Regions from separate parts of the Homo sapiens genome. Here all the other regions are linked to region 1. The links come from fine-mapping of genetic effects on gene expression. A gene starts in region 1. Each other region holds a variant in brackets. All regions are shown on one strand. Distances are between the middles of the regions. Region 1 holds the start of LINC02610 (long intergenic non-protein coding RNA 2610). Region 2 overlaps LINC01107 (long intergenic non-protein coding RNA 1107). Region 3 has its middle 8.9 kb from the start of TRAF3IP1.

Region 1 (10,069 bases):
GTGGGGCTGCGTGGACTCTGATAAGCCTTCCAGTTCCAACTGCCAGGGCGCTGCTGCCCAGGGAGCCGTGAGGAGCGAGGTCGGGCATGCACGAGCTCTGCCTCTGATGGTAAGAAGGGGAGAGAGGGAAATGGGGTGAAGCTAGCGAAGGCAGCACGCGCCCCAGGGCAGACCCCACGCGCCAACACAGCCAAATTCCCAGCAGTGGGAAGGCCCTGCACTTCACTCCTGCCCTGTCACTGGGAAATTCCCAAGTCAAGATGGGGAGCATGGTGGCGCCTGGGGTCTGAAAGGCAAGGCCCCCTCCTCTGTCTCATCCTCCAACCTCTACCTGTCCTGCAGGGCTCACATGCCACCTCCTCCAGGAAGCCTTCCTTCAGGAGCCTGCCTGTCAGAGGTCATCTCACCTTTTTCTCATCTCCCATGCCCTGTTGATTGTTCTCTCATTGCCTTGATTCCTATACACAAATGGTCAGGAAATGTCTGTCCCTCGGAAATTCCACTCTCCTTAAGACAGAGGCCCTGCTCCACCAGGAGCAGCTAAAATTTCCTATTGAGACTCCTCCTGGTTACAGGGGCACAGGTTGCCCCCAGGGATCTGTTCTCAGCTTCCCAAAGGCAGGGTGTGCCTCCTCCCACCTTCCCGCATGCTGCCGGTGCCACAGAACCTGTGCAGGGCCCAGGGGAGGCGCCCACACACTGTACTTGTAGGGCACAAAGGGACAGCCCTCTCTCTCCAGAAGTCCAGGGACTCAGCCTTGGTGCAGACTGGGTCTTAGGCAAGGCAAAGCCAGAGGACAGGATCTGCACGGACTTCTGGAAGAGGAACCAGCCAGCAGCCAGCCTCCTGAGAGGAGCTAGAGGTCTGGGGGTTCTCACCTGATCCTTAGCTAGAAAACTAGGGCTGGGCTCAGGGCGTGCCCCAGGGCTATTTTGTTCCATGCCATGTGCCGCTCCCAGGAGAAGTGGTACTTCTCCCTCCTGACTCTGTCCCCACCTCCCTAAACAAGCCTGTGGCCCTTTAACAAAGCCCAGAGTCCCATTAAAGATCCTGCCTGGTGCTGGTCCTCAGCTACATGGACTGGGTGGCCCTTTTTATAAGGAATGGCAGCATCAGTTCCCCCTTTCCAGCGGCCTTCTCCACAGGGCTGGCCTGACTCCCCACAGCACTCACCTGGGCAAGTGCGGGCCCATTCCCCGGCTGTCCTCCTGCTGTCCCCCGCAGGTCTTTCTCAGCATGGTGAACATGGGAGCCGGGGCTCTGTCTGCATGAGGGAGGTGCTCAGACCCTGCAGGGCGGGAACAAGGTGGAGGAAGTCGCTGGCGCTGCAGAAGCTGGGCAGTCACCCCCTCCACACCCACTACCAGGGAAGGGGCAGGAAGCATCAGGGGAGTCACCTGCTCTCGTCTGAGAGGGAGGTAGAGGCAGAGGGAGGCTAGAGAAAGACAAAGAAGGCAAGGCGGGGCAGAGGCAGGGAAAGCCCAGCAAAAGTGGGTTGGAGGAAGAGACAGAAACAGGGACGAGAGAATGAAAGAAACAGAGAGAGGCAGAGAGACAGGGAAGAGAGGAGAGAGGAAGGGAGCCAGAGAGAGGAAGAGAGAGCTGGTGAGATGGGGAACAGAAGGATATGAAGGCAGGGGAGGATGAAGACGCAAAGAGAACGAGGTGGAAACAAAGAGAAAGGGAATTCCAACCAACAGTAGGCACTGAGAAAACGGCTTTCCATGCTATTTCATTCAACCCTCAAAACAAGTAGGTACTACTGCCATTCCCATGATGTGGATGAAGAGACAACGGTTTAAGAGATAAAGAGGCAGGAGAGAGAAAATATGAGGCAGGAATACAGACAAGACAGAGACTGCGTATTCAAGGATCAAGAGACAACAGGCTGGGCGTGGTGGCTCACGCCTGTAATCCTAGCACTTTGGGAGGCTGAGGCAGGTGGATCACCTGAGGTCAGGAGTTCGAGGCCAGCCTGGCCAACATGGTGAAACTTCGTCTCTACTAAAAATACAAAAATTAGCTGGGTGTGGCGGCGGGCGCCTATAATCCCAGCTACTTGGGAGGCTGAGGCAGAAGAATTACTTGAACCCAGGAGGAGGAAGTTGCAGTGAGCGGAGATCGTGCCACTGCACTCCAGCCTGGACAACAAAGCACAAACTCTGTCTCAAAAAAAAAAAAAAAAAAAAAAAAAAAGACAACAACAACCCAACAGCCTAACTGCCCATAACAGCATAAACTTGAGAAGAAATGCTGTCTGTCTCCAGCAACTAGAAGAATGCCTGACAAAGAGCAGGCCTCCAGTTAACAACTGTGGAATGAACAAGCAAACATTATCTGGACTATGCCGTCAGGGAAATAAAAGAAGCCTTGGAAACTGCATAAAACGAGGAGTGACCAGGAAAGGCTTCAGGCAGGCAGTCTATCTGAGCCAAACCTGGAGGCATGCAGAGGGCAGAGCAGCGGCTTTGGCCATGCAGCAAACCAAATATCTGGCAAGGGCATGGAGACAGAAGGTGGTGGAGGGGGTGTGGAGGCAGTCAGTAAGTTCTGAGTTGGCCCACGTGAGGACCAGGCCTACTATTCTTTGAGAATCTGCAGTGTTGGGCTTTTGAAAAGACTGAAGCTCAGGGCGTAACCTTCAAGGTGGGGGTTTTCTTAATGACCACTGCCATTCTCCAGGTGACAGCCAAGAACCTGAACTACGAATGCAGGAGCCGGACAGGGGGAAAGGGACGTCTAAGACTCATCCTCTTGTTCGTTCAACCTGTTGAAGTGGCAGGATTGCCAGTTCCTGGACGCTACCTGCAGGGCTCCAGTGTCCCCTGGAACCTGGGAGGTCAAGGTTGCCCAGGCAGGGCTCCAGGGAGGTGTCTCCATGGACCGTCTGGTTTCCAGCCTGAAGGATTGATGCCCTTGTTGCTCTGAAGGATCCAGAACATGAAGGGAGGAGCAGGTTTTGTTGGAAAGCTGAGTTCACATTTGAACTTGTTGCAGAACCTGTGGGATTCCTGAGAGGCGACAGCCAGGGGCATTTGGATAAACTCTATGAGAGCTCCAGAGAGGGCTGGGCTGGAAATAGATTTTGCAGCTGGTAGCACAGCAGGTGAAGCCATGGAGATCATACAGATTACAGCCTAGAAGCTAGAGAAGAGGGCCTAGCAAAGAAATGTGGGGCACAATATTTAAGAAGACAATATTCGCCGGGCACGGTGGCTCATGCTTATAACCCCAGCACTTTGGGAGTGAGGCAGGTGGATTGCTGGACCAGCCTGGGCAACACTACAAACATCTCTCTCTACAAAAAAAATACAAAAATCAGCCAGGCATGGTGATGTGCGCCTATAGTCCCAGCTACTTAGGAGGCTGAGGTGGGAGGATCACTTGAGTCTGGGAGGTCGAGGTTGCAGTGAGCCATGATCGTACCACTGCACTCCAGCCTCCAGCCTGAGACAGAGTGAGAACCTGTCTCAAAAAAAAAAAAAAAAAAGACAACATTTAATATCCAGTTGTGAAGAGCCACTGCCAGAACCTGAGAAGGAATGGTGGAACAAGAAGAGCAAGAAGACTAGACAGAGAACAATTTTTTGAGATAAGGTCTCACTCCCATTGTCCAGGCCAGAGCACACTGGCGTGATCTCAATTCACCGCAGCCTTGACTTCCCGGGCTCCAGTGATACTCCCACCTCAGCCTCTCGAGTGGCTGGGACTACAGGTGCGGGCCACCATGTCTGGCTAATTTTTTGCATTTTTGGTAGAGATGGAGTCTTGCTATGTTGCCCAGGCTGGTCTTGAACTCCTGGGCTCAAGCGATCTGCCTAACTCAGCCTCCCAAAGTGCCGGGATTACAGGTGTGAGCCACCGTGCTCTGGCAAGAACAATGTTTTAAGAAGCATGAGGATGTTGAGTATCAAATGCCGCAAAGTTCGGGTGAGAAAACTGAAGAGTCTACTCGGCAATCAGGAGTTCATTGGAGACTCTGGCAGAAGTTTTCTATAGTAGAATGGCAGGAAATGTAGCCATACTGAAATTTTGTTAGGGACAAACAGGTGATGAGGAAATGAAGAAAATGAGAATGAAGACTGTTTTTAAGAAACTGGAGTGTGAAGAAAACAGTAGGACAATAAGTAAGAAACCTCAACGGGGTGTGAGGACAAGTTCCCCAGGATAAAGTGGATAAGATGGAGGTTGGCACTTAAGATTTGGAGCAGGTTCAACAGAGAGGAATGGCAAGGTTTGAGGGATGGTTCCTGACGTCTAAGGGCGCATTTAATATTCTTTCAAGGTTAAGGTGGGGCAAGATCTGGAGGAGAGAGGATAGTACCCCAAGTGTCATCATCCATTGACAGGTCAATAGGTAGTACAGCGACATGGGAACAGAGCAGGTGTGCACAGAAAGCATGGTTTCCCAGGGAGGGCAGTATTTTTCCATGAGGATGCAAGAGTGAAAAGCCTGGGAGATTCCACGAAGAGCTGAGGGGCTTCTGAGCCACAGCTTAAACCTTAACCCTCCTCCTCTCAGATACATTCAAATCCAAGTACTGATAATAATCTAGTAAGACCTGGGCTTCCCTGGCTACCGTCTATCAAGGAATGCCAGTGTCTGCCTCTGGGCAGTGCGCGTTGGATTTGGGTTCTCTGCGGGGTCTTGCTGATCTTAAAGACAATGCAGGGGCCTTGTGAGTCTCACCTCTGTACCCCCAGCACATAACAGGTGCTCAACACATTCGCGAGGGGAGCGCTGAGCAAAGCGGAGGCCCGGGTTCCCTCCTGGAGAAACCTGCTTCCCCTCCAAGGCCTCAAGCGTCCGCTCCTTCACTGACCTCAATCGTTGATTTCGGCTGCACTTCCTATCCCTGGGGGAGCTTTCAACGCTCCGCCGTCCAGGCCGCCGGGCCCCGCAGCCCGCGCCCCGCTCTCTAGGGCTGGGCCCCCAGGGGCTGGACGACCTCTCTCGCCTTCGCTTTCTCAAGCGTAAATCGGGCGGCGGGGGCTGCAGAGCCTTCATCTCTTCCTCCGTCCCGGGATGTCGGAGAGACGGCAGCCCAGCCTCCGCCACCGCAAAGCTGCTTAACGGGCAGCGCGAGTCCCTCGGGCACCGTTGGAGGCCGTTGCTCACCGTTGGGCAAGTGCTTTAAGAAGCACGAGGATGTCGAGTGTCAAATGCGGCAAAGGGCTCAGAGCTCGCCGCCAAGGGGCGTGGCCTCCGGGCCGCGGCGGCCTCTGGGAGTTGTAGTCCCGCCTCAACTTGTGGTGGCCTCTTTAAAAAAACAAAAAACAAACAAACAAAAAAACACTGGCGCTTGGGTCCGTCGCTGCCTCGGTGTCCCTGTCGGGCTTCCCAGCAGCGGCCTAGTGGAAAAGTAAAAGATGTCTGAATATATTCGGGTAACCGAAGATGAGAACGATGAGCCCATTGAAATACCATCGGAAGACGATGGGACGGTGCTGCTGTCCACGGTTACAGCCCAGTTTCCAGGGGCGTGTGGGCTTCGCTGCAGGAATCCGGTGTCTCAATGTATGAGAGGTGTCCGGCTGGTAGAAGGAATTCTGCATGCCCCCGATGCTGGCTGGAGAAATCCGGTGTATGTTGTCAACTATCCGAAAGATAACAAAAGAAAAATGGGTGAGACAGAAGCTTCATCAGCAGTGAAAGTGAAAAGACCAGTCCGATTTAATAGTGTTGGGTCTCCCATGGAAAACAACTGAACAGGACCTGAAAGAGTACTGTAGTACCTTTGGAGACGTTCTTATGGTGCGGCAAAGCCAAGATGAGCCTTTGAGAAGCAGAAAAGTGTTTGTGGGGCGCCGTACGGAGGACATGACTGAGGATGAGCTGTGGGAGTTCTTCTCTCAGTATGGGGATGTGATGGATGTCTTCGTCCCCAAGCCGTTCAGGGCCTTTGCCTTTGTTCCATTTGCAGATGATCAGATTGCGCGGTCTCTTTGTGGAGAGGACTCGATGAAAGGAATCAGCGTTCACATATCCAATGCCGAACCCAAGCGCAATAGCAATAGACAGCAAGAAGTGGAAGATTTGGTGGTAATCCAGGTGGCTTTGGGAATCAGGGTGGATTTGGTAAGAGTAGAGGGGGTGGAGCTGGTTTGGGAAACAATCAAGGTAGTAATATGGGTGGTGGGATAAACTTTGGTGCGTTCAGCATTAATCCAGCCATGATGGCTGCCCCCCAGGCAGTGCTGCAGAGCAGTTGGTGTACGATGGGTGTGTTAGCCAGCCAGCGAAGCAGCCAGGCCCATCGGATGATAACCAAAGCCAAGGCAACATGCAGAGGGAGCCAAACCAGGCCTTCGGTTCTGGAAATAACTCTTGTAGTGGTTCTAATTTTGGTGCAACAATTGGTTGGGGATCAGCATCCAATGCAGGGTCGGGCAGTGGTTTTAATGGCGGCTTTGGCTCAAGCATGGATTCTAAGTCTTCTGGCTGGGAACGTAGACAGTGGGGTTGTGGTTGGTTGGTATAGAATGGTTGGAATTCAAATTTTTCTAAACTCATGGTAAGTATATTGTAAAATACATATGTACTAAGAATTTTCAAAATTGGTTTCTTCAGTGTGGAGTATATTCAGTAGTATTTTTGACATTTTTCTTTAGAAAAAGGAACAGCTAAAGGAATTTTATAAGTTTTGTTACATGAAAGGTTGAAATATTGAGTGGTTGAAAGTGAACTGCTGTTTGCCTGATTGGTAAACCAACACACTACAATTGATATCAGAAGGTTTCTCCTGTAATATTTTATCCCTGGACTTGTCAAGTGAGTTCTTTGCATGTTCAAAATGGAAGCCATGAATTAGAACTACATTCTTTATTCCTTGTTTTAATTTGAACCCCACCATATGGATTTTTTTCCTTAAGAAAATCTCCTTTTAGAAGATCATGGTGTCACAGTTTGGTTCTTTTGTTTTGTTTTTTAACACTTGTCTCCCCTCAAACACAAAAGTACAATATGAAGCCTTCATTTAATCTCTGCAGTTCATCTCATTTCAAATGTTTATGGAAGAAGCACTTGGTTGAAAGTAGTGCTGTAAATATTCTGCCATAGGAACACTTCTGTCTACATGCCTTCTCATTCAAGAATTCGTCATCACGCATCACAGGCCGCGTCTTTGACGGTGGGTGTCCCATTTTTATCTGCTACTCTTTATTTCATAGAGTCGTATCAACGCTGTGAACGCAAGGCTGTGATATGGAACTAGAAGGCTGTTTGAACTTTTGAAACCTTGTGTGGGATTGACGGTGGTGCTGAGGCATGAAAGGCTAGTATGAGTGAGAAAAGGAGAGAGCACGTGCAGAGACTTGGTGGTGCATAACGGATATTTTTTAACTTGGCGAGATGTGTTTCTCAATCCTGCGGCTTTGGTGACAGTGTGCAGACAGCAATGATAGCAAATAATGTACGAATGTTTTTTGCATTCAAAGGACATCCACATCTGTTGGAAGACTTTGAGTTTTTGTTCTTAGATAACCCACTTTATTTGAATGTGTTAAGTGAAATGATACTTGTACTCCCCCTACCCCTTTGTCAACTGCTGTGAATGCTGTATGGTGTGTGTTCTCTTCTGTTACTGATATGTAAGTGTGGCAATGTGAACTGAAGCTGATGGGCTGAGAACATGGACTGAGCTTGTGGTGTGCTTTGCAGGAGGACTTGGAAGCAGAGTTCAGCAGTGAACTCTGGTGTCTCAAAGAAGGGTAGAAGTTCTAATGTCTGTTAGCTACCCATAAGAATGCTGTTTGCTGCAGTTCTGTGTCCTGTGCTTGGATGCTTTTTATAAGAGTTGTCATTGTTGGAAATTCTTAAATAAAACTGATTTAAAAAAAAAAAACCAAAAATCTAAGTAAAGGGGTCGGAACTACATCTCCCAGGAGGCCCCGCGGCTCGCCTCTGGCGGGGCGGGGCTGGAGGGGGCGTGGTCAAGGCCTCGGCTCCTCCGAGCGCCTCCCAGCTCACGGCGCCCCCCGAACCCGGCTCCAAGGGACTCGGTATTCCCCAGCGCCGGCTCCGGGCAGTCCCGGAAGGGCTCAAGGGCTGGGCGACTGGCTGATCGAGACCGTCCGGGTCCTGGCTCTCGGGTCACTTGCAGAGGCCTGAGCAGAGCGTAGGGAGGGCTGGAAGGGAGGAGCCCCGGGGGGCGGCGGTGCTGAACCGGGTAGAGTCTTGAAGGTCACGGTCAGGACTGGAGTGGGAGGGGAGTCAGAGGCCTGCTGCGGAGGCCCAGGTTAGAAACGAGGCTGCCTTGGACTCGGTCGGTGGCAAAGAAGACGACACGTGGAGGCAGGGCTTAGAAGTAGAGCTCCGCCGGGCTTGGTGGCTCACGCCTGTAATCCCAGCACTTTGGGAGGCCTAGGCGGGCAGATCACGAGGTCAGGCGATCGAGACCATCCTGGCTAACACGGTGAAACCCCGTCTCTACTAAAAATAGAAAAAATTAGCCGAGCGTGGTGGCTGGCGCCTGTAGTCCCAGCTACTTGGGAGGCTGAGGCAGGAGAATTGCTTGAACCCAGGAGGCGGAGGTTGCAGTGAGCCTAGATCTCCCCCACTGCACTCCAGCCTGGGCGACAGAGTGAGACTCCGTCTCAAAATAATAATAATAATAATAAATTAATAAATAAAAATAAAAAAGAAGAAGAAGTAGTGCTCATGGGCTTGACTGATAGGACGTGGGATGGCAGGAAGAGGGTGAACTTGAGGGTGACATCTAGATTTTTTTGCTCAATCCATGGGGTACCAAGAAGTGGTAATGCCTGAGGATCTGTTGTTTTGGTGGTGGTGTGAGCCCATCTGACATCTAAGTGCAGTCACTGAGTGGACAGGAGGATACAGAGGAGCCAGCCGCCTGGAGAGGGGCTTTGAATCAAGGGCATGGGATTGGCAAAACGGGCCAGATGGTGTCACTGGGTGTGGGGGCGGCAGGGAAGGCTGAGGACAGAGCCTTGGGAAGAACACGTCCAGTTGGAGGGCGGCAGGGAAGGCTGAGGACAGAGCCTTGGGAAGAACACGTCCAGTTGGAGGTCGGCAGGGAGGAGCATTGAGTACAGGGGACTGAGGATGGCCGATGAGGTAGAAAGAAGGCTGGTGTGGTGCCCTTGAGACTGGAGAAGGAGCCTCCAGATGGATGAGTCATAACCCACGAGAAGTGAAGCTGACATGCGGACATGCCCACTGGGTTGGGAAACATGCTCGTTACTAGAGATTTTGACTGTGCAGTTCCAGTGGAAGGGTGGACAATAGCTTGATTGGAAAGGAATGAAGAGGAATGGGATGCGTGGAAGTGGAGGCAGTAAGTGTAGATGACGCTTTCAAGGAATTTTGCTTTAGAGCATTGAGACAGAGGCTAACAGTATGTCACATCCAGGGAGGTTCTTCCGAGTAAAGGTATTCATATTACAGCCCGTTTGTAGGTTAATGAGAATGATCCAGAAGGGAGGAGAAGCTAATGGTGCAGTGGAGAGCAGAGTCCCTGAGCAGGTGAGCAGGGATGGGGGCCCATGCCCATGTCGGAAGCGGGCGCCACACTGCTTCATGATGGAAGGCAGAACGCCTGGGCCAGGGTGCAGGCAGGTGTCACAGAGAATGTCCTTCATGACCACATCCTAGTTCCCAGAACCTGCGAATATGCTACTTTACATGGCAAAAGGGAGTTTGCAAATGTGATTAAGAATTAAGCTAAAGACCTTCATACAGGGAGATTATCCTGGATTCTCCAGGGGGCTGGTGTCATCACAAGGATCTTTAAAAGTAGAAGTAAGGAGGAGACGTGACCAAGGAAGAAGGGTCAGAGAGACGCAATGCTTCCGAGGAACTCTGAGGATGGAGGAAGGGACCATCCTCCAAGGAATGTGGGTGGCCCCTGAATGAAGAGGCAGGAGAAGGCACACAGCCCTGCCTGCCAACACCTTGATCTTAGCCCAGTGAATCCTGACAGACTTCTAACCCGTGGAACTGCAAGACAATAATCGTGTGTTTGAAGCCACCAAGAGTGTGGTCGTTGGTTTTGGCAGCCATAGAAAAGTAATACAGTGGGTCAGGGATCCGGGTGGGAAGGAGAC
Region 2 (10,069 bases), 300 kb after region 1:
TATTTATAAATGTACATACTTGGTCCAGAACAGTGGTTCACGTCGGTAATCCCAGCACTTTGGGAGGCTGAGGTGGGAGGATCACTTGAGGTTAGGAGTTTGAGACCAGCCTTGGAAACATAGCAATACCCCATCTCTATTAAAATAGTAATTTAAAAAATTAGCCAGGCATGATGGTGCACCTGCAGTCCCAGCTACTTGCGAGGCTGGGGTGGGAGGATCGCTTGAGCCTGGGAGGTTGAGGCTGCAATGAGCCATGACGGCACCACTGCACTCCCACCTGGGTGCCAGAGTGGGACCTTATTTCTGAATAAAAAGTACATGCTTAAAATTAAAGGGGCTTCTTGTTAATCATTGGAAATGGATATAATCCAAAGTCCGTAGCTACTAGGCACCTACCACCTTCATCATCATGGTACCATTTGAAGCTCCCCTCTGTGCTGGGGACCAATGGCTCTGAGACCATCATGGCTGTGCCTGGCAGTGCAGGAGCAGAGAGCTGACATGTGTGTCCCTCAATCAGAGACATGGATAAGATGGCACCCTGATGGGAGGGTGAGGGTCCAGAGAGCCAGTAAATCCACAGCCATGTGGCCGGTCATGGAACAAGATTGGCCAAGAAAGAAGGTTTTAGAAGGTAAGAGGTTCATTTCAGATCTTCCCTTAAAGGTGCCCTGAGGCATCTTTTTTAACAAGAGCACCAAAGAGGAGGTTTCTGGTAGGCAGCTCGCTCCTGAACGCTGAGCAGAACGGGCCGGCCATGCCAGGTGCTGCTTTGCTTTGTTTGAACAAAGGTCCTGGGGTCCTCACAGTGAGACACGGTTCTCACTTCCCATCTCTGCTCTCAAGGCCTTTGTGATCTTTGTGCTATCCTACTGAAGACAGGTAGAGGAGAGGAACAGAGGACCCCAAACAAGTCCCTGTTCAGCCTGGACACCTGGGAAAGGGAGGAGTGTGGAAGAGGGAAGGAAGTTAGCTGGGGGACAGTGAACACCAATGTATGTGCAGATTCAATCAGCAGCGATCTGTGAGTCAGAGGCTCTCAACATGCTCCAAAGCAAAGCTGGGTAAACACTGCCACTTTTTGTTTGCGTTGAGTTAGCTGCCTGCAAGCATATTAGGAAACCCTGACAAAGAGCATTCTAAATGCATGTGGTGCCTTTGAGTTTATTTGTCTCAATTTATTCCAGTTACATTTGAGCATGACATGATTATACATCTCACACTGACTGAAGACTGTGGGCCTGCGTGGCAGGCAGGGGAAGAAGGGGGGAGGAAGAGGGTTTCCTAGCGCCATCTAATTTAAAGCACCTTTAGCTGAGTGGTGCAGTGAAAAGGATGTGGCTAAAACAAATAAAAATCATAGCAGGATCAAAGTACACACACAAATTTATTCCTTCTGGAAGCAGCTTCTCTTTCCCTTTCCCCCTCTCTCCTTCCCTTGTTTTCCCCTCCTTTGAGTCCCAGCGATTCTTTCATGGCAGAACTCCAGGATGGCCTCGTCTCCTTGCAGCACAATCACAGTTTCATCTCTGATTGATGGGGCGAAGGCACCGGCACCGCGGGTTTGAAGGAGATCTAAGGGCCTTCCTAATTTCATGGTGGGCATGTGAAGTGTCACATTAATCAGCGCTCTTTATGAGCAGTTCAAAGAGTCATAGATGTTGGGAAGGTGGCTGTTTGAAGCACAGAGCCAAGGGATTTCAGGATTTTATCAACAACCTGGGGGTTCCACCTCCTCTCCCCAGTGCACCTCTTGCCTGACTGCTGGGTGGAATTTTACATGAGAATCATACGGAGCTAAAGGAACCTACGATACCATCCAGTTCCAACCCATACTTTACATAGGAATCAGCAGAGGCTGGGAGTCTCTCTTGGGGTCACACAGAAAGCCATCTAGTCTGGAAGCAGTGGGTTATTCAAGCCTCCTGGTTGCGTGTGACAACTCAAATGAGGTTAAGCACTGATATAGTTTGGCTCTGTGTCCCCAACCAAATCTCATGTCGAATTGTAATTCCCAGTGTTGGGGAAGTGGGCTGGTTGGAGGTGATTGGATCATGGGGGCAGATTTCCCCCTTGCATTCTTGTGATGGTGAATGAGTTCTCAGGAGACCTGGTTGTTTGAAAGTGTGTGGCACCTCCCTCTTTGCTCTCTTCCTCCTTCTCCAGACACATGAAGACGTGCCCGCTTCCCCTTTGCTTTCTGCCATGATTGTAAGTTTCCTGAGGCGTCCCCAGCCCTGCAGAACTGTGAGTAATTTAAACCTCTTTCCTTTATAAATTACCCAGTCTCAGGCAGTTCTTCATAGCAGCATGAGAATGGAATAAAACAGTAAATTGATACTGGGTAGTGGGGCGCTGCTATAAAGATACTAAAAAACGTGGAAGTGACTTTGGAACTGGGTAACAGGCAGAGGTTGGAACAGTTTGGAGGGCTCAGAAGAAGACAGGAAGATGTCTTCCAGGAAAGTTGGAACTTCCTAGAGACTTGTTTAATGGTTTTGACCAAAATGCTGATAGTGATGTGGACAATGAAGTCCTGGCTGAGGTGGTCTCAGATGGAGATGAAGAACTTTTTGGGAACTGGAATAAAGGTGACTCTTGCTACATTTTAGCAAAGAGACTGGCAGTATTTTGCCCTTGCCCTAAAGATCTGTGGAATTTTGAACTTGAGAGAGATGATTTAGGGTATCTGGCAGAAGAAATTTCTGAGCAGCAAAGCATTCAAGAGGTGACTTGGGTGCTGTTAAAAGCATTCAGTTTTATGTACTCACAAATATATGGTTTGGAATTAAAACTTATGTTTAAAAGGGAACCAGAACATAAAACTTAGGAAAATTTGCAGCCTGATGATGCGATAGAAAAGAAAAACCCATTTTTGGAGAAGAAATTCAAGCCAGCTAGATAAATTTGCATCAGTAACGAAAAGCCAAATGTTAATCACCAAGACAATGGGGAAACTGTCTCCAGGGCATGTCAGAGTTCTTCACAGCAGTCCCTCCCATCACAGGCCCAGAGGCCTAGGAGGAAAAAAGGGTTTCACGGGCTAGGCCTAGGGCCTTGCTGCTTTGTGTAGTATAGGGATTTGGTGATAGTGAGTTCCAGCTGTGGCTCAAGGGGCCAACATAGAGCTCAGGCTGTTGCTTCAGAGGGTGCAAGCCCCAAGCCTTGGTGGCTTACACGTGGTCTTGGACCTGTGGGTGTACAGGAGTCAAGAATTGAGGTTTGGGAACCTCAGCTTAGATTTCAGAGGATGTATGGAAATACCTGGATGTACAGGCAGAAGTCTGCTGTAGGGGCAAAGCCCTCATGGAGAACCTCTGCTAGGGCATTGAAGAAGGGAGATGTGGGATTGGAGCCCCCACAGGGAGTCCCCATGGGGGTGCTGCCCGGTTGAACTGTGAGAGGAGGGCCACCGTCCTTCAGACCCCAGAATGGTAGATCCGCTGACAGCTTGCACTGTGCACCTGGAAATGCCTCAGACACTCAATGCCATCTTGTGAAAGCAAAGCCACAGGGGTGAAGCAGTCCAAGGCCATGGGAGCCCACCTCTTGCATCAGCGTGACCTGATGTGAGACATGGAGTTGAAGGAGATTATTCTGGAACTTTAAGGTTTGGTTACTGCCCTGTTGGATTTTGGACTTGGGTGGGGCCTGGAGCCTCTTTGTTTTGGCCAATTTCTCTCATTTGGAATGGGTGTATTTGTCCAATGCCTGTATCTCCATTGTATCTTGGAAGTAATTAACTCACTTTTGATTTTACAGGCTCATAGGCGAAGGAATTTGCCTTGTCTCAGATGAGACTTTAGATTTGGACTTTGGGGATAATGATGGAATGAATTAAGACTTTGGGGGACTGTTGGAAGTACATAATTGTGTTTTGAAATGTGAGGACATATTTTAAAGGGACCATGAATGGAATAACATGTTTTGGCTGTGTCCCACCCAAATCTCATCTTGAATTGTAGTTCTCATAATCCCCATGTGTCATGGGAGGGACCTGGTGGGAGGTAATTAAATCATGGGGGTGTTTATTAGTCTGATCTCACACTGCTATAAAGAACTGCCCAAGACTGGGTAATTTATAAAGAAAGAAGGTTTAAATGACTCATAGTTCTGTGGGGCTGAGGAGGCCTCAAACAACTTACAATCAAAGTGGAAGGAAGTAAACACATCCTTCTTTACAGGATGGCAGGAAGGAGAAGTGCCAAGTAAATGGGGGAAAAGCTCCTTATAAAACCATCAGATCTGAAAACTCACTCACTGTCATGAAAACAGCATGGAGGTAACTCCCTCCATGATTCAGTTACCTCCCACAGGGTCCCTTCTATGACATGTGGGGATTATGGGAGCTACAATTCAAGATGAGATTTGGGTGGGGACATGACCAAACCATATCACTGCACCTCAGGGATGATCCAAGACACCTCCTGGTACAGTGCTCACACCTCAGGGATGACCCAAGACATCTCCTAGTGTAGTGGTCCTACCTCAGGGATGATTCAAGACACCTTGTGGTGCAGTGCTCACACTTCAGAAATGATCCAAGAAACCTCCTGGTGTAGTGATCCTACCTCAGGGATGATCCAAGACATCTCCTGGTGCAGTGCTCACACCTCAGGGATGATTGAAGACACCTCCTGGTGCAGTGCTCCCACCTCAGGGATGATCCAAGACACCTCCTTGTGCAGTGCTCACAATTCAGGGCTGATCCAAGACACCTCCTGATACAGTGCTCACAACTCAGGCATAATCCAAGACACCCCCTGGCACAGTACTCCCTTCTTAGGGATGAGCCAAGACAACTGCTTGTGCAGTGCTCACACCTTAGGCAGAATCCAAGACACTTGCTGGTGCAGTGTTCTGACCTCAAGGATGATAAAATACACTTCCTGGTGCAGTGCTGACAATTCAGGCATCATCCAAGAGACCTTCTGGTGCGGTGCCTACATGTCAGGTTTGATCCAAACATCTCCTGGTGTAGTGCTCTGACCTCGGGGATGATACAAGATACCTCCTGGTGCAGTACTCACACCTCAGGAATGATCCAAGACAACTCCTGGTGCAGTGCTTCCACCTCAGGGATGATCCAAGACACCTCGTGGTGTGGTACTCCCACCTCAAAGATGATCCAAGACTCCTCTTGGGGTAGTGCTCCCACCTAGGGATGATCCAAAACACCTCCTAGTGCAGTGCATACATCT[C/G]AGGCATGATCAAAGACACCTCCTGGTGCAGTGCTCAAGCCTTAGGGATGATTCGTGATGCCTTTTGATGTAGTGTTCACACTTCAGGGATGATCCAATACACCTTCTGGTGCAGTGCTCCCTCCACAGGGATGATACAGGACACCTCCTGGTACAATGGTCACACCTCAGAAGTTATTCAAGACAGCTCCTGGTGCAGTGCTCACACCTCAGAGATGAATCAAGACACCTGGTGCAGTGCTCACACCTCAGGGATGAATCAAGACACCTCCTGGTGTAGTGCTCACACCTCAGGGCTGATTCAAGACACCTGGTGCAGCACCTGCACCTCAGAAATGATTCAAGATACCTCCTGGTACAGTGCCTGCACCTCAGGGATGATCTGAGACATCTCCTGATGCAATGTTCACACCCCAAGGATGATCCAAGACACCTACTGGTGCAGTGCTCACACCTCAGCGATGATTCACAACACCTCCTGGTGCAGTGCTTACACTTCAGCGACGATCCAAGACACCTCATGATGCAGTGCCTGCACCTCAGAAATGATCCAAGACACCTCCTGGTGTAGTGCTCCCTCCTCAGGGATGATCCAAGACACCCCTCGTGTAGCGCTCCCACCTAAAGGACGATCTGAGACATCTGCTGGTGCATTGCTTGCATCTTAGCAATGATCCAAGACACCTTCTGGTGCAGTGCTCACAAGTCAGGTTGATCTAAGACACTTCCTTGTGCAGTGCTTCCACCTCAGCAATGATACAAGACACCTCCTGGTGCAGTGATCCCCCTTCATGGATGATTGAGGACACATCCTGTTGCAGTGCTCACACCTCAGGGATGATCCAAGACACTTCCTGTTGCAGTGCTCACACCTCAGGGTAGATCCAAGATACCTCCTGGTGCGCTACACTCTCCTCAAAAATCATTCCAGATACCTCCTGGTGCAGTGCTCACACCTCAGCGATGATCCAAGAGATCTCCTGATGCAGTGCTCCCACATCAGGGATGATCCAAGACACCTTCTGGTGCACTGCCTCCATCCCAGGGTTGATCCAAGACACCTTCTGGTGCAGTGCTTATACCACAGGGATGATCCAAGACACCTCCTGTTGCAACTGAGACATGATCCAAGATGCCTCCTGGTGCAGTGGTCACTTTTCAGCATGATTTAAGACACCTCCTGGTGTAGTGCTCAAACCTCAGAGATGATTTAAGACACGTCCTGGTGCAGTGCTCACAACTCAGACATGATCCAAGACACTTCCTGGTGAGGTGTTCACATCTCAGGGATGATCCAAGATACCTCCTGGTGAGGTGCTCACACCTCAGGGATGAATCAAGACACCTCCTGGTTTAGTGCTCACAATTCAGGGATGATCCTAGATATCCTGGTGCAGTGCTCACACTGCAGGCATGACATAAGACACTTCTGGGTGCAATGTTCACACCTCAGGGATGATCCAAGACACCTCCTGGTGCAATGCTCACACCTCAGGGATGATCCAAAATACCTCCTGATGCAGTGCTCACAACTCAGACATGATTCAAAATATCTCCTGGTGCAGTGCTCACACTCAGGCATAATACAAGAAACCTGGTGCGGTGCTGAGACCTTATGGATGACCCCAAACACCTCCTGGTGTAGTGCTCACACTCAGGGATGATCCAAGACAATTCCTGGTACAGTGCTCACACCTCAAGGGTGATCCAAAACACATCCTGATGCAGTGCCCACACAACTCAGGCATCATGCAAGGTACATCCTGGTGAGGTGCTCACACTCAGGCATGATCTAAGACACCTCCTGGTGCAGTGCTCACATCTCAAGCATTATCCAACACACTTCTTGGTGTAGTGCTCCCACCTTAGGGATGATGGAAAATACCTCCTTGTGCAGTTTTCACACTACAGGGATGATCCAAGACACCACCTCATGCAGTGCTCACACCTCAGGGATGCTCCAAAACACCTCTTGGTGCAGTGCTCACAACTCAGATATGATTTAAGACACCTCCTGGTGCAGTGATCACAACTCAGACATGATCCAAGATACCTCCTGGTGCAGTGCTCACACCTAGGGATGATCCAAAAAAACCACGTGGTGCAGTGCTCACACTCAGGCATGATCCAAGACACCTCTTGGAACAGTGCTCTCAACTCAGGGATGATCCAAGAGACCTCCTGGTCCAGTGCTCACACCTTAGGGATGATCCAAAACATCTTCTAATGCAGTGCTCACATCTCTGGCATGACTTGAGATACCTCCTGGTGCAGTGGTCACACCTAGGAATGAGCCAAAAAGACACCTGGTGCAGCGTTTGCACTCAGGAATAATACAAGACAGTCCTTTGTGCAGTGCTTACACCTCAGGGATGATCCAAGACATCTCCTGGTGCAGTGCTCACACATCAGGGATGATCCAAGACACCCCCTGGTGCAGTGCTTGCACCTCAGGGATGATCCAAAACACCTCATGATGCAGTGCTCACAACTCAGGCATGATTCAAAATACCTCCTGGTGCAGTGCTCACACTCAGGCATGATCCAACACAATTCCTGGTGTAGTGATCTCACCCCAGGGATGATTAAAAACACCTCTTTGTGTAATTCTCACACTACAGAGATGATCCAAGACACCACCTGGTGCAGTGCTCACACCTCAGGGATGTTCCAAAACACCCTCTGGTACAGTGGTCACAACTCAGGCATGATACAAAACACCTCCTAGTGCATGGGTCACACCTCAGACATGATATGACACTTCTGGGTGAAATGTTCACACCTCAGGTATGATGATCCAAAGACCTCCTGGTGCAGTGCTCTTACCTCAGGGATGATTCAAGACACCTCCTGTCACAGTGTTCACCCCTCAGGGATGATTCAAGACACCCCTGGTACAGTGATCCCACCTCAGAGATGATCCAAAACATCTCCTGATGCAGTGCTCACAACTCTGGCATGATGATGGTGCAGTGGTCACACCTAGGAATCATCCAAAAAACCACCTGGTGCAGTGTTCACACTCAGGCATAATACAAAACACTTCCTGGTGCAGTGCTCACACCTCAGGGATTATCCAAAACACATCCTGGTGCAGTGCCCACAAAACTCAGGCATGATCCAAGGTACATCCTGGTGAGGTGCTCACACTCAGGCATAATCTAAGACACCTCCTGGTGCAGTGCTCACACCTCAGGTATGTTCCAAAACATATCCTGGTGGAGTGGTCACAACTCAGGCATGATCCAAGACACCTCTTGGTGCAGTGCTTACACCTCAGGGATGCTCCAAAACACCTCTTGGTGCAGTGATCACAACTCAGATATGATTTAAGACATGTCCTGGTGCAGTGATCACAACTCATACATGATCAAAGGTACTTCCTGATGCAGTACTCACACCTAGGGGTGATACAAAAAACCCACCTGGTACAGTGCTCACACTCAGGCATGATCCAAGACACCTCCTGGTCCAGTGGTCACACCTCAGGGATGATCCAAAACATCTCCTGATGCAGTGCTCACAACTCTGGCATGATCCGAGATACCTCCTGGTGCAGCGGTCACACCTAGGAATTATCCAAAAAACTACCTGGTGAAGTATTCACACTCAGTCATAATACAAGACACTTCCTGGTGCACTGCTCACACCTCAGAGATGATTCAAAGCACCTGGTGGTGTAGTGCTGCACTCCAAGGGATGATCCAAGACACCTGTTACAGTACTCCCTCCTCAGGGATGAGTTAAGACACTTGCTGGTCAGGCACCATCAGGCACGATCCAAGACACTTGTGATGCAGTGCTCCGACCTCAGGAATAATGCAGAACAACTCCTGGTGCAGTGTACACACCTCAGGAATGACGCAAGACACCTCCTGGTGCAATGCTTACACATCAGGGATGATAAAAGACACTTCCTGATGCAGTGCTCAAACCTCAGGCATAATCCAAGAGACCTCCTGGTGCAGTGCCTGCACCTTAGGGATGATCAAAAACACCTCCTGGTGCAGTGCTGACACCTCAGGCATGATTTTAGACACTTCCTGGTGCAGTGTTCACACCTGAGGGATGATCCAATACACCTTCTGGTGCAGTGCTGCCACCTCAGGGATGATTCAAGAGACCTCCTTGTGCAGCGTCTGCACCTCAGATTTGATCCAAGACACCTCATGGTGTGTGATCCCATCTCAGGGATGATACAAGAGACCTCCTGGTACATGGGTCACACCTCAGGCATGATAAGACACTTCCGGGTGCAAAGTTCACACCTCAGGGATGATCCAAGACACCACTTGGTGTAGTGGTCTTTCCTCTGATGATTCAAGACATCTCCTGTAACAATCCTTACACCTCAGGAATGATTCAAGACACTCCCTGAGACAGTGATCCTACTTCAGGAATGATCCAAGACACCCCCAAGTGCAATGCTCACACTCAGGCATAATACAATCAGGCATAATACAAGACACCTTTTGGTGCAGTGCTCACACCTCAAGGATGACCCAAGACACCTCCTGGAGTAGTGTTCCCCCCACTCCAGGGATGATCCAAGACCCCTTTGGTGCAGTGCTCTTACCTTAGGGTTGATTCAAGATACCTCCTGGTGAAGTGCTCCTACCTCTGGAAAGATCCAAGACACCTGCTGGTGTAGTGCTCCTACCTCAGGGATGATGCAACATGCAAGCCACTTCCTGGTGCAGTGCTCCCACCTCAGGGATGCTCCATGACACCTCCTGGTGCACTTCTCACAATTCAGGGATGATCCTAGACACCTCCTGGTACAGTGCTCACACCTCAGGTGTGACACAAGACACCTCCTCGTGCAGTACTCCCTGCTCAGGGATGAGCCAAGACACCTGCTGGTG
Region 3 (10,069 bases), 80 kb after region 1:
CACAGCAGTGATGAAGGTGAGGGACCTCCAGTGGTGCAACAGAGGCAGATGATAGGAGGGTCTTGTGCAGTTTATCTGTGGCTCTGGCCCTGCATAAGCCCAGTGCTGGATGTGCCCTTTCATCTTATCATAGATTTCTGTCGAGCATGCCTGACCTATGCCCTGGAGGCCCTGGCAGAGCCCGGCTCAAGGCAGGCAGCTCTAGTGGTGTGATCACCGCTTGGTGTCTTCCGCTCTGCTAGGGTGCAGAGGCATACCAGCATCTGTCTTCCTTTGCTGCAGATAGCGTGGCCTTACTCCAGAACCCCCAGGGTCCAGGTTGTGATTCTCCCACTGGGGGTTTGCCATGAAGTTATCACACACTCAGAGATTTAAAGCAACAAGGCATCTTTTCCACCATAGGTATCTCTAGAACCATAGCATCTTCCAGATCATTTGGCCTAATTTGCTGGATTGCTAGCACCATAGCCTGTGCCCACTGCAGCGTTCTTCCCCATGCTGGCAGCCTTTCACACCACCTGGTAAATGTGACCACGCAGTATTCCCAAGTGTGGCACGTGCTGCCTCCAGAACCCACAGAGGCGACCAGTCCTCGTGGTCCTTCTTAGTGGTGGGAAGTACACAATGTAGTCCTTCCTTCACTGTGGAGATGCCTGTTAAGCTCCAACCACTGGGCCCCTAAAAACTTCACCGATGCAGCAGACGCCTGGAACTTCACAGGGTTTCTCTCCCACCCTCTGCAGCACACGCACCTTAATAAGGCCTCTGAGGTTTCTCCTCGTCAATCTGGTCATCCAGTTTAATTAATAGGATATCAGTATACTGAACCAGTGCAGCATTGTGCAGAGTGTCTGGTCCATCCAGACTATATTAGGAAAGAGGGAAAAGAGTTAATATGGCCCTGGGGTGAGACAATCAGTGTGTATTCTTCTTCTTCTTCTTCTTTTTTGTTTTCTTAAGACGGAGTCTCAATCTGTTGCCCAGGCTGGAGTGCAGTGGTGCAATCTCGGCTCACTGCAACCTCCACCTCCCAGGTTCAAGCGATTCTCCTGCCTCGGCCTCCTGAATAGCTGGGATTACAAGCGCCCACCGCACCCGGCTAATTTTGTGTATTTTTAGTAGAGATGGGGTTTCACCATGTTGGCCAGGCTGGTCTCAAACTCATGACCTCAGGTGATCTGATGATCTGCCCACCTCAGATCCAAAGTGCTGGGATTATTGGTGTGAGCCACCGTGCCCAGCCAATGTGTACTCTTATCCATCCTAAATGAATGTAAGCGGCTTCTGGTTCTCCTCTTAAGTAGGGATGGAAATGAATGTATTGGCTTCCTACCATGGACTTGAGATTGTGTTGACCTGCTATAGCAAAGATACCACAATTGGGGCTCCTATTTGTTTGGGTTTGCAGTATTCCACTGTCAATCCCCAGGATCCATGTGGTTTTTGCAGGGGTTTGGCTAATTAAATGACTCTATAATGGGGAGAAAGTATACCTGCATCCTTCAGGTTTTAACAGTGGAATCTATTCGTCCCTTATAATTGCTGTAACTCTCTTCAGCATGCAATATTGGTTTTTATTTACTGTCTTGGCTGGGGGAGGGGCAGTGTCAGGGATTCCCACTCAGCTTCCCAGGTCTATAGCTCTTATTCCACAATCCCAAGTATCTGGCCAACATGGGGTTACCCCATATGCCAAGTGTGTCCACTTCAATCATTGCATTTGAGGGCTCGGGAAATGACCACCAGGTGGCTCCATGGACCCTGTGGACCTACCAAAATCCAAAGTGGGGCTAGGGCTCTATCACCTGACCCCGTATGCCCTCCCTTTAACAGGAGTCAAGATGATGCTCCATGTCCCCAGGATTCTGTGTGCAATAGTCCTTGAAATGGTTCTGTATTCCCCCTCCCTGTGTATAGTTACTTGAATGAGTGGCCTTAGGTTTCTTTGGGGAAGGACTGTGGGGGAGATTTTGGCTCCCTGCACCGGCAGTGATGTTGGGAACCTGGCCTTTCAATGAGTTCTAGGTCCAAAACCAGGCAAGGGATTGTAGCGGGGGACTGGGGCAGCCACTCTCAGCCTCCTGCTCATCCATGTTTGATTTATTTTAGTTTCGAAAGCTCGGCCACACCCTTGCTGACTGCTCATTCCCCTGGTCCCTAGGAACATTTTGTTGTATTATCCGGCCGCATAGCTCTCTGCATGTCAGGTCTTCCTGGCTACCACTCTGACCTTGCCACTCTTGGCTATAAAAACCAATATTACATGCCAAATATTGTCACTTTGGTAAATGAAGTGACCTCCGAGCCCTCTCACAGGACACAGTGGGCTGGTAGGTTTGCTGGCCCAACATCACGTATGTGCTCTAGTAGGCTCATTTCCCTACCATCCTCCATGGTGGGGCTGGAAGTTTTCCTTCACTTAGTGAAGGCCATAGCTCTTTGCAGGTGTCCAAGAGCCATTCTAACAGCCCATTAGCACTGTCTCCCTGGGACCCAGCCAGGGTCACAAGCTTCTATCACGGAAAGTCCTCCCACATTCATCAACTCTTGTCTTATCCGTCTTTATATTCTGTCCCCTGCTGGGTCCAGCACTCTTGGGATGCAGTCCTGGATGTGCTCTCCTGGATCTTGCTGGTCCATGCTAGGCAGATCCTGCAGTTCCTTCGGAATAGAGTCCCTCCCTCCCTTAGCAGGCCAGCATGTCCTAGCTAGGTTATGTTGTTGTTTGACCCTCATGATTGGTCTGGTGTCAGGAGGGGGATATTGGCATAGATCCTGAAAAACGCATGCATTGTCTTGCAAGGCAGACATCTCTCTCTCTCTCTCCCCCCGCCCCCCAACTATAACACACACATTCTCTCTATATAAAACACTTCAAGAAAGGGGGTGCTAGCCTTTAACAGGAGCAGTGGGCCTCCTCTGTAGGTCCAGATGATTCAGGAGAATCTGGGGATTCTAGTTTGTTTGTTTGTTTGTTTGTTTGTTTTTGAGACAGTGGTCTCTCACGCCCACCCTGGGGGCTTCAGTTGAGCCGGTCAGTGGTGATTCAGCTCCGAAATCTCAATTTAGGGTCCATTTCCTCTGACCACTTCTGAGAGCAACTCTCTTGGGTAGAGATCTCTGGGAAACTGGGTTTGCACCCCCAACTCCATCAGCCCTTGAATGCGGGTGCCCATAGGGAGCAGGAGGCACAGTAGGCCCCTTTGGCTAAGTCTCCCCAGAAGGGAACCTGGCTGTGAGCCCACAGGGATCACTGCTTCTGGCAGCTGGGGCAGTGTGGGCCTCAGCCCTGAGTGGCACAGCACCCACCACAGGGCCAAGGCAGCCATAGCTGAGAGGGCCACGCCTTTTTTTTTTTGAGACGGAGTCTCGCTCTGTCACCCAGGCTGGAGTGCAGTGGCATGATCTCAGCTCACTGCAAGCTCCGCCTCCCGGGTTCATGCCCTTCTCCTGCCTCAGCCTCCTGCGTAGCTGGGACTACAAGCGCCCGCCACCACACCCGTCTAATTTTTTGTATTTTTAGTAGAGATGCGGTTTCACCGTGTTAGCCAGGATGGTCTCGATCTCCTGACCGCGTGATCTGCCCGCCTCGTCCCCCAAGAGTGCTGGGATTACAGGCGTAAGCCACTGCGCCTGGCCAGGTTTTGTTTCTGGCGCCCGGCTGCGCCACTCCTTTTTAAAGACTTCCTCCTTCCTCCTTCAGGCACCCACACGTTCATGCAGCCAGTATTCATGGGGTGCCCTGAGGAGACATATGGACCCTGTCCCAGCCTTCCTGGACCTTGTGCACTAGCTGGGGAAAGTCATGCCCTTGTTTAAGCATGGGCCAGGGGGAGCTGGACAGCACCGCCGGAGCTTGGAGGAGGACTCCTGGGGTCAGTGGGAGTCAACTGCAGGCTTTCAGGGAGTGGCAGGTGGGATATTTCAGGTTGGAGGGCTCAGTCAATTTACCTTCAACAAAAGTGCCAAGAGGCCAGAGGTAGTGGCTCACACCTGTAATTTTGGTATTTTAGGAGGCTGAGGTGGGAGGATAGCTTGACCCCAGGAGTTCAAGAGCAGCTTAGACAATATAGCAACATCCTATCTCTACAAAAAAAAATAAAAATTAGCTGATGGCCGGGCGCAGTGGCTCACGCTTGTAATCCCAGCATTTTGGGAGGCTGAGGCAGGTGGATCATTTGAGGTCAGGAGTTTGAGACCAGCTTGACCAATGTGGCGAAACCCCATCTCTACGAAAAACACAAAAAAATTAGCCGAGCGTGGTGGCACATGCCTGTAGTCCCAGCTACTCGGGGACGCTGAGGCAGGAGAATCGCTTGAACCCAGGAAGTGGAGGTTGCAGTGAGCCGAGATCGCACTACTGCACTCCAGCCTGTGCAACAGAGCGAGACTTCATCTCAAAAACAAACAGACAAAAAATTAGCTGAGCATGGTGGCACACGCCTGTAATCCCAGCTACTTCAGAGGCTGAGGTAGGAGGATTGCTTGAGCCCAGGAACTTGGGGTTACAGTGAACTATGGTTGTGTCATTGCACTCCAGTCTTGGACGCAGGGCAAGTGACACTCTGCCTCAAAAAAAAAAAATGCCAAGAACACACATTGGGGAAATGATGATTTCTTCAATAAACGGTGTTGGGAGAACTAGATCCATATGCAAAAGAATGAAACCAGACCCTCATCTTGCACCATATACAAAAATCAGCTCAAAATGGATTAAAGACTTAAATTTCAGACCCCAAACTATAAAACCATAGAAGAAAACATTGGGAAAAACCTTCTTGACAGTGGTCTGGGCAATGACTCTTTGAATAGGACCCCAAAAGTACAGGCTGTGGAAGCAGA[A/G]ATAGGCAAATGGGATAATATCAAACTAAAACGCTTCTGTACAGCAAAGGATACAATCAGCAGAGTGAAGAGACAATGAGCAGAATGGGAGAAAATATTTGCAAATTATACATCTGATAAAGGGTTAATATCCAAAATATATAAAGAACTCAAACAAGTCCATGGCGAGGAGAACAAATAACCCAATTCAAAAATGGGTGAAGGACTCAAATAGGCATTTCTCAAAAGAAGGCACACAGATAAATGGCCAACAGGCATATGAAAAAATGCTCAATATTACCAATCATCAGGAAAAGGCAAATTAAAACCACAAGTCATTATCATCTCACATGTGGGAGAAAGTTATGATCAAAGAGACAAAGGATAACAATGTCAGTGAGGATATGGAGAAAGGGAACCCCATACACTGTTGGTGGGGATGGGAATTAGCGCAGCCATTATTGAAAACAATATAAAAGTTCCTCAAAGAACTACCAATAGAACTACCTTATTTTATTTATGTATTTATTTACTTTTGAGACTGAGTCTCACTCTGTTGCCCAGGCTAGAATGCAGTGGCATGATCTCAGATCACTGCAACCTCCACCTCCTGAGTTCGAGTGATTCTCGTGCCTCAGCCTCCCGAGTAGCTGGGACTACAGGCGCATGCCACCACGGCTGGCTAATTTTTGTATTTTTAGTAGAGACGGGGTTTCACTCCATTGGCCAGGCTGGTCTCGAACTCCTGATCTCAAGTGATCCGCCTGCCTTGGCCTCCCAAAGTGCTGGGATTATAGGCATGAGCCACTGTGCCTGGCCAAAAAATAGAACTACCTTATGATCCAGCAGTCCTACTTCTGGGTAGATGCCTGAAGGATATGAAATCAGTATGTCAAAGAGGTAATTGTACTCCCATGGTCATCCCAGCATTATACACAATGGCCAAGACATGGTATGAACCTAAGTGTCCATTAGCAAATAAATGGAATACAGAAAATGTGGGATTTACACACCATGGAATACGAGTCAGCCTTAAAGAGGGAAATTCTGTCCTTTTCTTGGATGGATGAACATAGAGGACATTATGTTAAATGAAATAAGCTGGCCAGGTGCAGTGGCTCACGCCTGTAATCCCAGCACTTTGGGAGGCTGAGGCAGGCAGATCACTTGAGGTCAGGAGTTCAAGACCAGCCTGGCCAACATGGTGAAACCCCGTCTCTACTAAAAATACAAAGATTAGCCAGGCGTGGTGGCGGGCACCTGTAATCCAAGCTACTTGGGAGGCTGAGGCAGGAGAATCACTTAAACCCAGGAGGCAGAAGTTGCAGTGAACTGAGATCACACCACTGTACTCCAGCCTGGGCGACAGAGCGAGACTCCATGTCAAAAAAAAAAAAAAAAGAAAGAAAGAAAGAAAGAAAGAAGCCAGAAACAAAAAGACAAATATTGCATGATCTCAACTCATATGTGGAATCCAAAGTTGAACTCATAGAAGCAGAGAGTAGAATGGTGGTTGTCAGGGACTGGGGAGTGTTTGTGTGTATGAAATGCGGGTATGTTGGTTAAAGGGTACAACATTTCAGTTGGACAGGCTGAGTAAATCCTGGAGATTAATGTATAGCATGGTAACTGTAGTTAGTAATAATGTATTAATTATATACTTGAAAATTCCTGAGAGAGATCTTACACGGTCTCACTGCAAAAAAAGATGAGAGGAAATGGATATATGAATTTGCTTATTTTAATCATTTCCCAATATATACATAAATCAAAACATCATTTTGTACACTGTAAATATATACAATTTTTATTTGCCAATTATACCTTTGTAAAGCTGCAGGGAAGGGGAAGAAAAAATAAATGACATGGCAAAAATATAAAACTAAATTACAAAAATAATAAAACGTGCTCTGTGTAACTTAATCAGAGTGGAGAGTATCTGCCAGGAGTATAAGTAGGGGCTCCCTTGAGACACCTGAAAACTTCTTACTCATGGTGGTCTCTCTTCTCAGATGTGGTTGGGGCCTGTGGCGTGCAGGATTCCCCAGCTCCACCCTCCTGGTGTCATCTTTGCATTGACTGGGGCAAAGGAAGGGTGTCTTGGGCTGCCTGGGGAGGCAGAATCTTACACCCCTCACCCAAGAGTGGCTACTTACCAGCAGAGCTTAAGATTGTTGGGAAATTGGCATGGGTGGCTCAGAGGCCTTTGGTGGATGATGGGACCCAGGCCCCTGCCCCTTCAAAGTCATGGGACCCTCCTGGAAGGGCCTGAGGGCCTGTGAGAGGGAGGGTAGTGAATCTTTCCCTCGGACTGCCCATGGGGGAGAGCTCCAAGTATTATGGTCTGCTCGCTATGTATTGCACCCCCATACCCTTTGTGGGACCCAGAGGGCCGTCCAGCTTGCACAAGGCAGACATAAAGATTCAGTGACGGGGGTCGGGGGGTGAGAATATCTGAGCTGGATTTCAGAAAGGTGGGGGACCTTCTTTTGTACCCCAAGCTGGGGAAGCAGATGCGACAGTCACAGCAAACACTTCCTGCTTGTGATGGAACTCTGTTTCTGCTGGGCCTCTTGGGCCTAGTTCCCCTGTCTCTGCCCAGTGGACATGCATTTGCTCCATAGTGACCCCCCACCCCACTTCCTTGTGGATCCAGGGCTGGTGAGCCCATCTGCAGCTCTGCACTTCTCTGACCTGGTATCTGCTCCCCAGCCCTTCCCAAAGCCTGACCCACATCTTGGGCTCTTGGTAGAAATGGAGTTCAGGGTGGGGCCAAGTCAGCCTCCCCAGGCCTTTGTCTCTGGGAATGTCTGCCTCCCGGTGAGGGGAGGCAGGGCCTGGAAGACACATTGGAAGCTTTGTGGCTTCTCTCTCCTGGAGCGAGTCAGGGCCATGGTTATCATTCATTCAGAAACTGTTCATTTCAAAACATCTCCTGCCAGCCTTTTATGTTTCCAACACTTTCTTTGCTGTGATTTTCTATAGTTGTTTAATCAATTATCTTTTTTTTTTTTTTTATGAATGACTCTTTTTTATGTTCTCTGCCTTTCCCTCTGATGCTTTTAGGACTCTGAGAAGCTTAGGGGTAATTTAGGGTACATCGTCCCTCCTACCTTGTACCTGGCTTGGAGCCGTTAGAACTGGAGGCTTCAGGCTGCCCTCTGCACCCTCCTGCCCTGGGAGGCCCTGGTTGCAGGTCTCTTTCTTGGAGTCAGGAATCCTTAGCTGCCTCTTCTTAGGCCTGCTTTCCAAGCACCCCGGATGCCCATCCGCCCTCCCGCTCTGTGCAGAGGGTGAGGACTCACCTTGAGGCAGTGTTGGGGCCTCATGAGACACAGTGGGTGGCATGGAAGACAGTCCATGCTCCTCAAGCACTGCACTGTCCAGGGACGCATGTCCACTCCCTGGCCACCTCCCCGCCTCCGTAAGGATCTCGGTGGGACTGGGTGACTCTGCTCCCTTGTCCCAGATCTTCTCAGAGCTCCTGATGCCCAGGTGGGCAGGAGGGTCTCTGATGGCTCACAGTTCCAAACAGCCAGGCCCTGTGCCCTCAAGGCCTCCACAAGGCCTTGGCCCACACGGCTCCTGCTCTCCATAGGCTGGGGGAGAGATAGGAACCAGCTTCCCCTTTGAGCAGCACTGGTTCAGGGTCCGAACCTCAGGGGCCCAAGTGTTCTCCAGGCCACACCTACCTCTCCCACCACTCAGGCTGGCCACTGTCAGACAAGCGGGTTTCTGGCCATCAGGCCCAGAGGAGGATACTGCCCAGATGGGACTTTCTGGGGCGGGGGCCGGGGAGCTCTGCTCTTGGGAACATTGTTCCGAAGGCAGGGCGCTTGTGGTCTCTGTGCTCCTTCCACCGCTGCTCAGGCTGACCCCAGCCAGCTCAGAGCTCAGAGACGGATGGGCCCTTGCAGGAGCCTCTTGGCTCCCAGCTTGGCCATGGTGGGCAGATCAGGGAAGGCGGCCCAGCCGGGCTTCCTCCAGTTTGGGAAGACTCTCCCGCTTTCAGCCACCACAGCATCACCTGCATCTGGTGCAGCACCCCTGGAGGGCCCTGTCATCCTGTGAAGATGACCGCCCTCTCTCTAACACCTGGGAGCAGGAGGCTGCTGCAGTCTTGTCTAAGGGCTTCATCGTTTCAGAGCTTTAGGCCAGCCTCTGCGAAATGAGGGCCCAGCCACGAAGAAGTACAGTCTCACCATGCTCCTCCCCTATAAAAACTTTCAGGGAGGCCTGAGGAGAGGTTGGGTGGTGGGCAGGAAAGGTGAAATGCAGGAATGAAGGGAGCTAACAGCATTCTCCATGTTCATGGGAAGTGTTAGTTTCACTGGGTGGGGGATGTTGGCAAATGACAGGGCAGTATGGAAACTATTTATTTTTCTTTATGGGGTTTGATGAACTGTTTAATTAATGCTTGTTCTTGGGAAGGAGGTACGTGTGTGATAAGGACACGTGTGGACAATCAGGAGAAGAATGGGAATTTGGGAGCCCTAGAAGGAGCGTGATTCAGTGATTCAGTGTCCACCGTCATCCTGGACTGTTCCAAGGGACTGCAGTGCCAAATGTCACAGTGGACTGTCCTGCAGAGGTCCTTGGGATGGTGTGAGTCTGGACTGGAGACCATATACTCTGGGAAGTGTAGTGCTGAGAGAAAGGGGATGGATGGAAGATCACAAAAGCTTCTGTGGGTTGGGAGTGGAGTTTCCAGAGTCAGGAAGATTTCATGAGGCAGGAGTCAGAGGCTGGTGGTGCTCTGGCCAAGGAGTAGGGTTATAAACGGAGAGCAGCCAAGATGGAATCCCTCTGAGGGTGCAACTCTTTGGGGGCTTGTTTTCCCCACGGAGCATGGGATGGTTCTATATGGTGAGTGTCGTTAAATTCCCTCTATCATGGGCTGTCTCTCTCTTAGGTGTCTCCCAGCCTCTCGGCCGAGTCTCACACAGCCAGCCCACCTGCAAGGTGCAGTGTAGGAGGAAGCAAGGCCAACAGTTAGAAGGAGATGAGCCCTGGCCCCTTTCATCTGGCCTCTGTCTAGGTGACCAAAGCTCACTTGGTCCTGGATATAGTTAGCAGCATGAGGAGTGATGTTCCTAGGACCAGTGGACAGCATGGACGCTGCCTTCTAGAAGGTCTTAACTCCCCATTAAATCCCCAGCACTCAGACAGTAATCCATACATAGCAGTGATTCAGTAAATGCTTGAATGATACTTGATGTGGTATCTTCACTAGAGATATATGAATATT

The links. PIP is the estimated chance that this variant, and not a neighbour inherited with it, causes the effect.
Region 2: its variant is the best candidate, but not a certain one, in a credible set for the expression of LINC02610 in whole blood (Lepik 2017, PIP 0.84).
Region 3: its variant is the best candidate, but not a certain one, in a credible set for the expression of LINC02610 in spinal cord (GTEx, PIP 0.52).

Annotation. Positions count from the first base shown.
Region 1 is chr2:238,226,510-238,236,578 of GRCh38, forward strand. It overlaps LINC02610 (long intergenic non-protein coding RNA 2610), which reads right to left and starts at 5,168. Exons shown (of 3, transcript NR_026926.1): 1 at 4,825-5,168; 2 at 1,175-1,289. It also overlaps the pseudogene TARDBPP3. RefSeq lists an enhancer at 7,733-8,234 and silencers at 7,935-8,064, 8,215-8,304.
Region 2 is chr2:238,528,410-238,538,478 of GRCh38, forward strand. The region is part of intron 2 of LINC01107 (long intergenic non-protein coding RNA 1107); the gene reads right to left. It overlaps LOC124906130 (a long non-coding RNA gene), which reads right to left. Exons shown (of 2, transcript XR_007088215.1): 1 at 4,575-10,069; 2 at 1,372-3,567. Among named protein-coding and RNA genes, the nearest start is that of LINC01107, 22 kb to the right of the region's middle. The variant C/G (reference allele first, on the strand shown) is at 5,205.
Region 3 is chr2:238,306,626-238,316,694 of GRCh38, forward strand. No RefSeq gene overlaps it. Among named protein-coding and RNA genes, the nearest start is that of TRAF3IP1, 8.9 kb to the right of the region's middle. RefSeq lists an enhancer at 8,427-8,926. The variant A/G (reference allele first, on the strand shown) is at 4,843.